3 separate regions of the Homo sapiens genome follow, and regions 2 and 3 are each reported to be linked to region 1. The links are microRNA targets in miRTarBase. Many come from high-throughput screens and were not tested one by one. Region 1 holds a microRNA gene; each other region holds the end of a gene's coding sequence. Distances are between the middles of the regions.
What was found. The annotated mature microRNA hsa-miR-4747-5p reads AGGGAAGGAGGCUUGGUCUUAG and lies in region 1 at 2,943-2,964, shown strand. An mRNA with a match to its seed (bases 2 to 7 or 8) in the 3' UTR can be bound and repressed. Matches are read on the target gene's strand: a 7mer-m8 pairs with bases 2 to 8, a 7mer-A1 pairs with bases 2 to 7 and ends in A, and an 8mer does both.

Region 2: the mRNA of CACNB1 is a reported target of hsa-miR-4747-5p. Seed matches in the 3' UTR shown: 7mer-m8 at 2,386-2,392.
Region 3: the mRNA of FXYD1 is a reported target of hsa-miR-4747-5p. Seed matches in the 3' UTR shown: 7mer-m8 at 625-631.

What each region holds. Positions count from the first base shown.
Region 1 is chr19:4,929,745-4,933,744 of GRCh38, forward strand. MIR4747 (microRNA 4747) reads left to right here and starts at 2,943; the gene lies at 2,943-2,996. UHRF1 (ubiquitin like with PHD and ring finger domains 1) reads left to right here. Exons shown (of 17, transcript NM_001048201.3): 4 at 972-1,132; 5 at 2,997-3,212. RefSeq lists an enhancer at 837-1,336.
Region 2 is chr17:39,171,521-39,175,520 of GRCh38, forward strand. CACNB1 (calcium voltage-gated channel auxiliary subunit beta 1) reads right to left here. Exons shown (of 14, transcript NM_000723.5): 14 at 1,933-4,000. The coding sequence ends at 3,673. It overlaps CACNB1-AS1 (CACNB1 antisense RNA 1), which reads left to right and starts at 3,109. Exons shown (of 4, transcript XR_934743.3): 1 at 3,109-3,197. RefSeq lists an enhancer at 3,888-4,000.
Region 3 is chr19:35,142,356-35,146,355 of GRCh38, forward strand. It overlaps FXYD1 (FXYD domain containing ion transport regulator 1), which reads left to right. Exons shown (of 8, transcript NM_021902.4): 6 at 117-166; 7 at 365-416; 8 at 562-754. The coding sequence ends at 387. FXYD7 (FXYD domain containing ion transport regulator 7) reads left to right here and starts at 900. Exons shown (of 6, transcript NM_022006.2): 1 at 900-1,009. The coding sequence starts at 979. RefSeq lists enhancers at 561-1,121, 1,122-1,683.

The DNA.
Region 1 (4,000 bases):
CTGCTACCATGTAAGATCAGGAAATGTCACAGAAAGATCTGGGTTTCCAGCTTTTTTATTTTTTTATTTTTTTTTTGGCAGGGTCTCACTTTGTTGCCCAGCCTGGGGTGCAGCCGTGTGATCACAGCTCACTGTAGCCTCGAACTCCTGGGCTCAAGTGATCCTCCCACCTCAGCCTCCTGAGTAGCTGATGTTATAGGCATGTGCCACCACGCCCAGCTAATTTTATTTTATTTTATTACTTTTTTAATACATGGTCTCATTCTGTCGCCCAGGCTGGAGTACAGTGGTGCCATCTCGGCTCATTGCAACCTCCAACTCCTGGGTTCAAGCAATTCTCGTGCCTCAGCCTCCTGAGTAGCTGGGATTACAGGCATGTGCCACCACACCTGGCTAATTTTTGTATTTTTTGTAGAGACGGGATTTCGCCATGTTGGCCAGGCTAGTCTTGAACTCCTGGCCTCAAGTGATCTTCCCGCCGCAGCCTCCCAAAGTGCTGGAATTATAGGTGTGAGCCACTGCACCCAGTCTGTTTTATTTTTTAGTAGACACAGCGTCTTACCATGTTGCCCAGGCTAGTCTTGAATTCCGGGGCTCAAGCGATCCACCTGCCTCGGCCTCCCAAAGTGCTGGTATTCCAGGCGTGAGCCACGACGCCCTGCCTGGATTTCCAGCTTCTCTTGACAAATGGGCAGCTCTGGTCTCTCAGGGCCTCCCAGCAGCTGTGGCTGAAGCAGAGCCGCAGGGGCCTTTGTTAAGACAGTCCATGCCCCCTGGCCCCGCATCCCCGTCACCCCTGCCGGGGCTGGTTTCTCATGGTCAGCGGTTCCCAGCCAGGGAGGAGAAACCTCGCTGTGGGCATTCGAGTTTGCGCCCTGGTTCCAGAGCATCCCAGTGTCCGAGAACCAAGGTGGTCTCCCGTCAGTTTTCCTCACCCCGTTGGGATGCCAGACTTCCCTCATTCCTCACAGGTCAATGAGTACGTCGATGCTCGGGACACGAACATGGGGGCGTGGTTTGAGGCGCAGGTGGTCAGGGTGACGCGGAAGGCCCCCTCCCGGGACGAGCCCTGCAGCTCCACGTCCAGGCCGGCGCTGGAGGAGGACGTCATTTACCACGTGAAATACGACGAGTGAGTCATGGCAGGTGGGCGGGCCTGGGTATTCAGGCTCTGTGACGCGCATCCTTGGCTGCGGGTGTTCAGGCCAGAGCTTGGCACTGTCTCGAGATGGTGATCAGGATCTGGGGCCCCATCCTCGAATTCCTAACAGCATACGAGGCTGCCCACTTGGGGACTAGCCTGGGGACCCGAAGCCGGCTGCCCCCTCCTGTGTCTCCGCGGAGGGTTCTGCTCGATCAGTGGCTGAAACTGCCACCCCATCAGTTTTTCTGTTTTATTCCATCTTCCGGGTTTGTCATCTCTCCCTCATCCCCACCCCTAACGTCAGTCTCCAGTCTTTGCACAAGTGTTTACTGGGCACTTCCTACCTGCCAAGTTCGGGGTCCACACACCAGTGGACACAGATGGTGGCTGCGTCTGTCCGTGCTGCCATCGTGAGATTTCACAGACGGTGTGGCTTAAACACGGACATTGGTTGACTTGCTCACTGCAACCTCTGCCTCCTGGATTCAAGCGATTCTCCTGCCTCAGCCTCCTGAGTAGCTGGGACTACAGGTGCCCGCCACCACACCCAGCTAATGTTTGTATTTTTATTTTATTTTATTTTTATTTTATTTTTTCGAGACAGAGTCTTACTCTGTCACTCAGGCTAGAGTGCAATGGCGTGGTCTCAGCTCACTGCAACCTCCGCCTCCCAGGTTCAAGCGATTCTCCTGCCTCAGCCTCCCAAGTAGCTGGGATTACAGGTGTGTGGCCACCACGCCTGGCTAATTTTTGTATTTTCAGAAGAGATGGGGTTTCACTATGTAGGTGAGGCTGGTCTCAAACTTCTGACCTCGTGTTCCGCCCGCCTCAGCCTCCCAGAGTGTTGGGATTACAGGTGTGAGCCACTGTGCCCAGCTTATTTTATTTTTTTGAGACAGTTTCACTCTGTCCCCCAGGCTGGAGTGCAATGGTGTGATCTTGGCTCATTGCACCCTCCATCTCCCGGGTTCAAACGATTCTCCTGCCTCAGCCTCCCAAGTGGCTGGGACTACAGGCGTGCACCACTGCGCCCAGCTAATTTTTGTTTTTGTTTTGTTTTTGAGACAGAGTTTCACTCTTGTTGCCCAGGCTGGCGTCAATGGCGCGATCTCGGCTCACCGCAACCTCTGCCTCCCGGGTTCAAGCAATTCTGCCTCAGCCTCCCGAGTAGCTGGGATTACAGGCATGCGCCACCACGCCTGGCTAATTTTGTATTTTTAGTAGAGATGGGGTTTCTCCATGTTGGCTGGTCTCCAACTTCCGACCTCAGATGATCTGCCTGCCTCAGCCTCCCAAAGTGCTGGGATTACAGGCATGAGCCACCGTGCCCGGCCATGCCTGGCTAATTTTTGTATTTTTAGTAGAGGCAGGGTTTCACCGTGTTGGTCAGGCTGGTCTTGAACTCCTGACCTCAGGTGATCTTCCCGCTTCGGCCTCCCAAAGTGCTGGGATTACAGGCGTGGGCCACCTTGCCCGGCCTCTCCTCTTGTTCTAAAGACACCAGTCCTGTTGGATTGGGGCCCACCCTACTGCAGTGTGATCTCATCTTAATATGATTTCATCTGCAAAGGTTCTATCTACAAAGACCCTGTTTCCAAAAACAATCCTATTCGTGGGTACTGGGGATCAGCCTTTGAACATCTCTTTTTGCAGGGGACACGGGCAACCCATAACAATTTTGTACCTGGAATGTGCCTTAATATACCTGTGTGTTCTCAACACCAGCATATAAGCCTGTTGGGAGGGGCCTCTGCACACTGTCGGGAGGGGCCGTCCCACCTCGGCTCGTTTCCCATTGAGGGAAGGAGGCTTGGTCTTAGCACGGGGTCTAAGGCCCGGGCTTTCCTCCCAGCTACCCGGAGAACGGCGTGGTCCAGATGAACTCCAGGGACGTCCGAGCGCGCGCCCGCACCATCATCAAGTGGCAGGACCTGGAGGTGGGCCAGGTGGTCATGCTCAACTACAACCCCGACAACCCCAAGGAGCGGGGCTTCTGGTACGACGCGGAGATCTCCAGGAAGCGCGAGACCAGGACGGCGCGGGAACTCTACGCCAACGTGGTGCTGGGGTGAGCCTCGCGTCCTGGGGCGAGCCCTTCCTCTCTCCTTTCCTCCCCTCCCGGGGCCCCCGGACTGGCTTTGAAGCCGTCCAGCCAGCGCTGTGTGTGCGAGGCCCTTAGCCTCCGGCCTGGCCTTCCTGCCTCCCCTCTGGGGTCTGTTCCTGCTCACTGCTGAGCATCTTTCTAAGACCGACCACCTTGTGCCCCTGAGTGCCTCTGCCCAGGGAACTGTCTCTGACCCCCAGGCCCTGACAGGCAGAGTTGTCAAACTTCCTTTTTCTCATGGTGTTTTTTTTATCGCTCTGTTGCCCAGGCTGGAGTGCAGTGGTTCGATCTCGGTTCACTGCAAGCTCTGCCTCCTGGGTTCATGCCATTCTCCTGCCTCAGCCTCCCGAGTAGCTGGGACTACAGGCGTCTACCACCACACCTGGCTAATTTTTTTGTATTTTTAGTAGAGACGGGGTTTCACCGTTAACCAGGATGGTCTCGATCTCCTGACCTCGTGATCTGCCTGCCTCGGCCTCCCAAAGTGCTGGGATTGCAGGCAGTGAGCCACCGTGCCTGGCCTCAAGCTTTCTTTTTCTCTCTTGTTTGTTTCAAATTTGGTGAATAGGTCCCATTCACAGGGTCAAAATAGAAAGCACCCAAGACCACACATGAAGGTTCTCCCTCCTCTGCCTGGTCACCCAGTTCCCCTTTTTGGCGACATCACTGTTACCAACTTTCCAGGGACATTCTGTTCATAAACATACACGCCAAACCACACCGCTTAGGAGTTGGCAAACTGCAGTCCACAG
Region 2 (4,000 bases), not on the chromosome of region 1:
ATCCACCCACCTCGGCCTCCCAAAGTGCTGGGATTACAGGCGTGAGCCACCGTGCCCGGCCTCACCTTCCTTTCTCTTATCAGCCGCCTCCACTTGCTCTCCAAGAGCTCAAGATGCTAACATTTATTTATTAATTTAATTTCTTTATTGAGACACGGTCTCGCTCTGTCATCCAGGCTGGAGTGCAGTGGTGTGATCATAGCTCACTGCAGCCTTGACTTCCTGGGCTCAAGAGATCCACCATACCTCAGCCTCCCTATCACAGCCTCCCGAATAGCTGGGACTACACACGCAGCTAATTTTTAAAATTTTTTGTAAAAAGGTGGGTCTCACTATGTTGCATAAACTAGTCTAAAACTCCTGGGCTCAAGCATTCCTGTCCCCTTAGCCTCCCAAAGTGCTGGGATTACAGGCATAAGCCACCAAGCCCGGCCATCTAACTGCTAGATCTCTCTGGCCTCTTTGCCTCCCTTCCAGTCCCACTGCTGTGGCGTAAGGCAAACCCTCCTTTCGCACCTGGATTATCACAGCTGTTTCTAAGCTAGGCCTTCCAATCTATGCGCCAAACTGCAAACAAAGCAATCTTGCTAATTGCTTACAATCCTTCCATTTCTGCATACGAGCTTCAGGACAAAGCCCAAACTCCTTAACATGACTCAAGGCCCACTGTGACCTGCTCCTGCCAATTCACCTTGAGAGCACACTTTGGTGGTGAGGTGCCAAGAATATGTCATGCATGTCCCCTGCTTTCTCTGCCTTGAACACTTTCCCCATTTGTCTGCTAACCATGCTTCCAGATTCTACTCAAGCCTCACCTCTGCCAGGAAGCCTCAGCTGACCTCCCCAGGTTATGGGACTAACCCCTCTTTCAGGTTCCCACAGTACCCAATGCTCCCACAGTACCCAGTGCTCCCACAGCAGAGAGCACATTATGCTGTGCTGAAATAATCTATGGCCCCTACGTAGACTTGTGCCTGGTACATAGGAGGTGCTCAATAAACATTTGTTCAAGGAAGAAACACAGGAATGAATGATTCTGTAGGAAGGCAGTGGGAAATGCACTATGCTGGGAGGCAGAGACTAGGCTCTCATCAACTTTGCCATTGGCTCCCCCAGGGAACTGGGGTCAGCCACTTGACCTCTGGGCCTGCCCAGTTTCCCTTTCCTTTGATCCACTAACTCCTCATCTGTAGGGTCTTGGGGGATGTCTTTTGCCCTACACACACACACACACACACACACACACACACACACACACACTCACTCATGTTGGGCCTCAGCACTCAGGTAGCGGACTCAGGAATTTTAGTCCTCCACGGCGACCAGCACAAAAAACAAGAACCAGGGTGGGCACAGTGGTTCATGCCTGTAATCCCAGCACTTTGGGAGGCCAAGGTGGGTGGATCACCTGAGATCAGGAGCCTGGCCAACATGGTGAAACCCTGTCTCAACTAAAAATACAAAAATTGGCCAGGCGTGGTGGCAGGTGCCTGTAGTCCCAGCTACTCGGGAGGCTGAGGCAGGAGAATCACTTGAACCTGGGAGGCGGAGGTTGCAGTGAACCGAGATCGCGCCACTGCACTCTTCAGCCTGGGCGACAAGAGCAAAACTCCATCTCAAAAAAAAAAAAAGAAAAAGAACCAGGAGGGAGGGGAAATAGTTTGAGGGTACTGTGTGAGGCAGGACACAGGTGGTTGCAGTAACTGTCAGAAGTCCACATCCTGCCAGCTGGGGATGGGAGGAATGGGTACACTCACCTGCTGACTTTCAGTCTGGGACTGGCAGAATCCCTGATTTTCTCTGACCTGCCCCCACAAGTAGTCTGCCTCCCTGTCCCCAAAGCTGGTTAGCAGGAACGAGGGGGGCATTAGTGGAGCCAGAAGCTCAGCCCCTCCCTCTCCTGAGGTGTTGGGGCACAGTGATGCCACAAGAGCAGAAAAACAGTCATGTGTATTTAAGACATTGCACCAGTGGGTCTGGATCTCACCCACTGAGCAACATTGAGCTTCCCATTGCCTTTGGCTCTACTTGTGGAGAGACAGGTAAGTGAAGGGGCTCAGGGCCAGTGTGGAGCTGGGACTGCCCAAGCAGCTCCTGGCTTGGGCACAATACATCAGAGGGCCAAAATCAAAGGATCATCTTTTCTTTTGAGTCAATGACTCAGGGCACAACATCTTCAGGCACCCACCCTTTCAACTCCCCGTGCATATCAGCAGCTCCCAGGTGCCTACGCTGACGACTATGTGGCGAGGACAAAGAAGCAGGCTTGGGAGGCAGCCACAAAGGACAGGACAGTGGTTTTATATATGGCAAAATACTTCTCCTAGGGGAGTACAGACAAATATAGACAGACAGATGGGGGCACAGGACACCAGACAGGGAGGGGGGAAGGGAGGGCAGTGGTGTCTTCTAATCAGTAAGTGGAAGCTGCACCCCACCCCCAGGTGGAGGGTGGGACATTGGCACAGGAGGTGGCGAGACAGGCATGAGGTGCCCATCCCTGAGGCGGGCAGCCGGGCAGGCCCCAGTCCTTGTTGGCACACTCGGCTCTCTCTGGCCCAGCTGGGATGCTGGGGAGGGGCAGGGTTGCTGGGCTACAGGGATGCCAAGGCAAAGGGATGCCCCAGGGGAGAGGGGGTACCAAGGCCTCTCCTGGGGGAAGTGAACATGGGTAACAAACAGAATCACGAGAGGCAAATACAGAGCAGCAACAGCAGCAGCCAAGCCCCCCAGAGGAGATCCGAGGTCCCAAGGCAACCCCTGGGCACCATCCCACGGGTCCTCTCCCCTGGGGCCTCAGGGTGAGGGTGAAGGAGCAGTTTTTTGGTTTAAAATGAGGCGGACCAGAGTGTTCCATGGGCTCCACACCCAGGTGGCACAGGGATGGGGGGCTCAGATGCAGAGGGGCCCCCTCTACTAATGGCAGCAGGCAAGGGATGTTGGAGGCCAAGCTCATTCCTGGGGTAGGCAAAGGCTGAGGCATGGAGGTGGGGGGTGGGGAGCAGCGTCTCGGCCGCTCACTCCTCAGGGTTCTGGGCCCTGGACGTTGCCATGGCCACGGAGGGTAGAGGGTGCTGTATGCCTGCCAGCTTCCACCCAGAACCCTCCCCAAGACAAGCTCCCCATGGGGTGTCCATGCTATGGCTTTCACCGACCAGACGATGCTGCCAGGAAGCTGGGAGGAAGGGGCAGGCAGGGTGAGGGACCTTGGATCTGGGGTCTGGGGAAGAGAGCCCCCATGGGAAAGAATCTGTGGCCTCCCTTTCCAGGAAAAGCGCCCAGCCCTTCCCCAGTACTGCAGCTTGGGAGAAGGAGAGCCATCCCACTTAGGACCGTCACTTAGGGCCCCGAGTAGAAAGAGTTAAGGAAGTGCACCTTTTCTCTAGGAGGGTGAGGGAGGAGAGCCCCTTAAGATGGGAGAAAGGGGACACTTCAGAAAGGTGGGTATCCCCCATCCATCCACAACAGGCAGGTAAAAACCGACAGCTGGGGCTTAAGGGCCTCCCGGGAGCTGGGATGGTAACACCAAAGAAACCCCAAGCTTTGAGCAAAGGCATCTGAAAGGAGGGAGACAGCGCCCCCTGGAGGCGAATACATGTCAGGTGTGAGCCCCTCGCTCCCTCCCCTCCCCTGGGCTCAGAGCCCTTCCTCCCGCCGTGTGGCCCCTGCCTCTCAGCGAATGTAGACGCCTCGTCCCCAGCCCTCCAGCTCATTCTTGTTGCGCCCCAAAACTGGACCCCCACCCTCAGCGCAGTAGCGGGCCTTATTCCGGCCCCGGTTCCGGTTGTCGGTCAGCTCTTCCTCATAGTCTTCTTCCTCGTCCTCCCAGGATCCCTGTCGGGCTGGGGGCGTGCCGCCCCCTGCAGGGTCTCCAAGCCCTGGCCCCTCTGAGGGGTCAGTCTCCATGTCCACACATGAGTCTCCCAGCTCCGTGTAGGCAGAGTTTCGGCTGCCGGGGGTGTCGGCATCAAAAGTGTCTTGGCGGGACAGTGCCCGTAGC
Region 3 (4,000 bases), 30 Mb from region 1:
TCCATATCTGGGCCTAGTTACACCAATCTGGGAAAGGAGGCTTGTACTGGGGGGTTCCTAGAAGGGCAGCCTCTCCCCCTTTCCATCCCGAAATCCCTCTGCCTCTGTCTTCCCAGGACTGGGGAACCCGATGAAGAGGAGGGAACTTTCCGCAGCTCCATCCGCCGTGAGTCTGGGGAGACTGCGGGTATTCTGGGGAGAGGGCTGGTTCCAAGGACCGCTTTTCCCGGCCCTCCCTGGCTGCGTAGAGGGAAGGGCTGGATCTGAAAGCGGAGGGCGGGGAGTTGCCCCGCCGCGGGCCCCACCTGCCCAGGAGCTGGGGATGCCTCTCCAGAATGACCCCCGATCTCCGTGTTCCCCCCAGGTCTGTCCACCCGCAGGCGGTAGAAACACCTGGAGCGATGGAATCCGGCCAGGTGCTGCAGCTCTGACACGGCGGTGGGAGGGAAGGAGGGAGGAAGGAAAGGCGGGAGAGGGAGGGGGCCAAGTGCCAGAGTTGAAGGGCGGCGAGGGGTGGGGCTGGACGTCCCCCCTCGCCTCTCACCCTTTTCACCCTCACAGGACTCCCCTGGCACCTGACATCTCCCACGCTCCACCTGCGCGCCCACCGCCCCCTCCGCCGCCCCTTCCCCAGCCCTGCCCCCGCAGACTCCCCCTGCCGCCAAGACTTCCAATAAAACGTGCGTTCCTCTCGACAGCACTTTGTCGGTCTCGGTCCCTCAGCGCGAAACGCCAGCGCCACTGGGCCCCAGCAGGGGGCGCCCCACCCTAGAGGAAGGGGCGGGGACGACGGTGGTGGGCGGGGGCGGGGGCGGGGGTGGCCTGCACGGGGGCGGGCTCCCCGGGCCCCCATTGGCTGCAGGCCCCCCCACGCCAGGGCTCCCCCCAGCTCCCCCCCACATCGGTCCGTCCTGCTTCCAGCTGCTGCAGCGCGCCTTCGCCGCCAAAGCATCCAGCAGCCCCCTGCTCCGGCCCAGCATGGCGACCCCGACCCAGACCCCCACAAAGGGTGAGCGTCGTTTGGGGAGGGGGTTGCAGGGGGGCTCCGGGATCTGAGAGCCTAGGAGAGAGGGTGTCGGGAGATTCAAGCAATGGTAAGGCAAGGGAGTTGGGGGAGGGAGGTCCGCTCCTCCTGTGGGCGGAAGCCCCTGTAATGCGCCCCCCCGATCGCCCCTCCGGGTCTCTGGGACACCCCCTCCCCGGCAGGCGTCCTGTGCCAGACCTGCGGTTGGAGAGTGGCAGTCCCGGGAGAAGGGATGCTCGGACAGGTCGCTATGGCAACCGGGTGGCTGGTCCCGCACCGTGGTGGTAGCAGACGGGGAAGAGATGAGCTTGCAGGGTGGGAGCGGGTGGGTCTGCGACCAGAGACGTTCTGGAAGATTTCAGGGTCCCTGGGGTGGGCAAGGGAAGGGGAGGAGGTTCATGTCCCTCTTCTTTCCAGTGCTGTCTCCTAGGGTGTCTGTTTCCTGAAACCCTTGACAGCCAGGTTCAGAGGAAAGGAGTGAGAGCTGAAGGAAGAGACAGAGAGAAGGGATATAGCAAGAGACAGACAGGGAGAACCTGGAAGAGACAGAGACCAAGAGAGGCAGGAGATCCAGAGTCACAGATACAAAGACCCAGGAAGACAAATAGATGGACTCAGAGAGATTCCCAGTGGAGGGGAGAGGCTGAGAGCAGTAGACAGAGATGCAGAGAGAGAGAGAAAAAAAAATGAGAGCCTGGGAGATAGTGGGATTGAGACCGCTATGGAGAGAGAAGCAGAGAGACGGAGGGAGAGAGACGGACCCATGGGGAGAGAGGGGAGTAGAAAGAGAAGAAGGGAGCCATGTGGGGTGGGGCCCAAACCACTGCAGTGAGACCCTATGTGTGGGAATGGGGCGATGGGACCCTCCTTCCAGCCCACAGCAGGGGTGTTTTCCAATCCCAGAGGTGCTGTTGGGTATACACCTAGCTGCCCCTACTGCCCCCATCCAGCCACACACTGATTTCCATTCCACACCAATTAACCCAGTTATGCACCCACTTAAACACCCACTTCTACCGTCGCCCCCTAATAGCCCCCACTGCTAATCCTGCTTCTGCAGATGAGCAAGGCACAGACTGCTTCAAGAGGGAGCCAGTGCCCAGCAAGGGTCTCCAGCACTGAGGGCAGGGGACCAGGGGTGCTGAGAAGCCCCTGGCAGTGAAGGGAACCCGAATTCCACTTGGATGGCTCCCTCCCTTCCGCGCTTCCCAGCAGGCGGGGGCTGCTGCACTGAGCCATATCTGCAGAATCCGAAGCAGGGCGGGGGGTGGGGGGGGCTGCAGAGGCTGGAAGCTACCCTAGGGAGGGGGGCAGGGCTGAGGCAGCAGGCCTGGCGGGAGCCCAGGGCTTCTTTTTGCAGAGGTGGTGGTTAGCAGGATCGATGGCAGCAGACGGGCAGAGGTGGGAGGACAGACTCCTCAACCCAACCTCCTCTGCCTCCCCCTTTCCCAGTCACAGCATGACAGGGGACCGCAGGTCTCGGGAAACCCCGGGGGAGGAAAAGCATGTTGTGCATTGCAAGCTGCTTAAGGAAACTAATTAATGAATTGTTGGGGAGCGAGGGGGGAAGAGGGGAGAGTCTCCCTCCACCCTGCCAGAGAACAGGAGGGAGAGTTAGGAGTGAACAGAAGAGGGATGCATGAGCACAGCTGGGTCCGGGTCCCTATCCCTGAAATGGACCCTTAGCTTGGCCAGAAGCCAGTCCTGCAGGGGCAACGGCAGGAGGTGCAAAAGGAGGGGAGAGGGTCAAGATTGAAACCTGCATCTCACACAGGACCTCACAGGGGACCCCACCCAGCCTGGGGTGGCGGGACCTATCACCTCTCTTCACCTCCCAAGATGCCCCAGTTGCCATAGCAACCACCTCCTTCCTGATATCTCTTTGGCAGCTGGCCAGGAGTAGTGCACATTCCTTTGCCTGACTCCTGGCCCCACCCTTAGCCCAGCCACGCCTGAGGGCCCAGGTTGCCGGGGCAGCAGGGACCAGAGGAGGATCTTCCGCATGGAGGAGGATCTTCCACATGGAACACCAGATTCTGGGACAGGGGCTCACCCAGTGGGCTCCCGATAACTTTGGGGAAGGACGGGTGTGTGGAAAACAGACAAGTGAGACAATCCACCTTTTACAGCCTCCTGCAGCCTAGGACTGCCTCATAATCATTCCTTCATTCATTCATCCCAGAAAACTTGAAGAGCCTTTCATAAATGTCAGGATGAACAGCAGTGATGAGTCAAACAAATTTACTCTCTGGTGGGGAAACTTACACAGAGCACAAGGGACCCTGAAGCAGCGTCTCACCATCTTGGCGCTTTTGAGTACTACCGTCACAATTTTTGCTTTATTCAAATATTCCTCACACTGCTATTTATTTAATTTTTTTCCTTAAAAGGATTAGCTTTTTTATTTTTATTTTTTGAGACAAGGTCTCACTCTGTCGCCTAGGCTGGAGTGCAATGGCACGATCACAGCTCACTGCAGCCTCAACATCCTGGGCTCAATCTATCCTCCTGCCTCAGCCTCCCAAGTAGCTGGGACTACAAGGCACTTCTGCTACACCCAGCTAATTTTTGTATTTTTCATAGAGACTGCTTTTGCTATGTTTCCCAGCCTGGTCTCAAACTTCTGGGCTCAAGCAATTCACCCACTTTGGCTTCCCAAAGTGCTTAGGATGACAGGCGTGGGCCACCATGCCCAACCCAGGATTAGCTTTTGAAAACAACGAGCTTTATTTTATAGCACCATCACAACTGGAAAATTAATCTTCTTTTTTTTTTTGAGACAGAGTCTCGCTCTGTCATCCAGGCTGGAGTGCAGTGGCACGATCTTGGCTTACTGCAACCTCTGCCTCCCGGGTTCAAGCAATTCTTCTGCCTCAGCCTCCCAAGTAGCTGGGACTAGCAGCGGCACACCACCACACCCAGCTAATTTTTGTATTGTTAGTACAGATGGGGTTTCACCATATTGGCCAGGCTGGT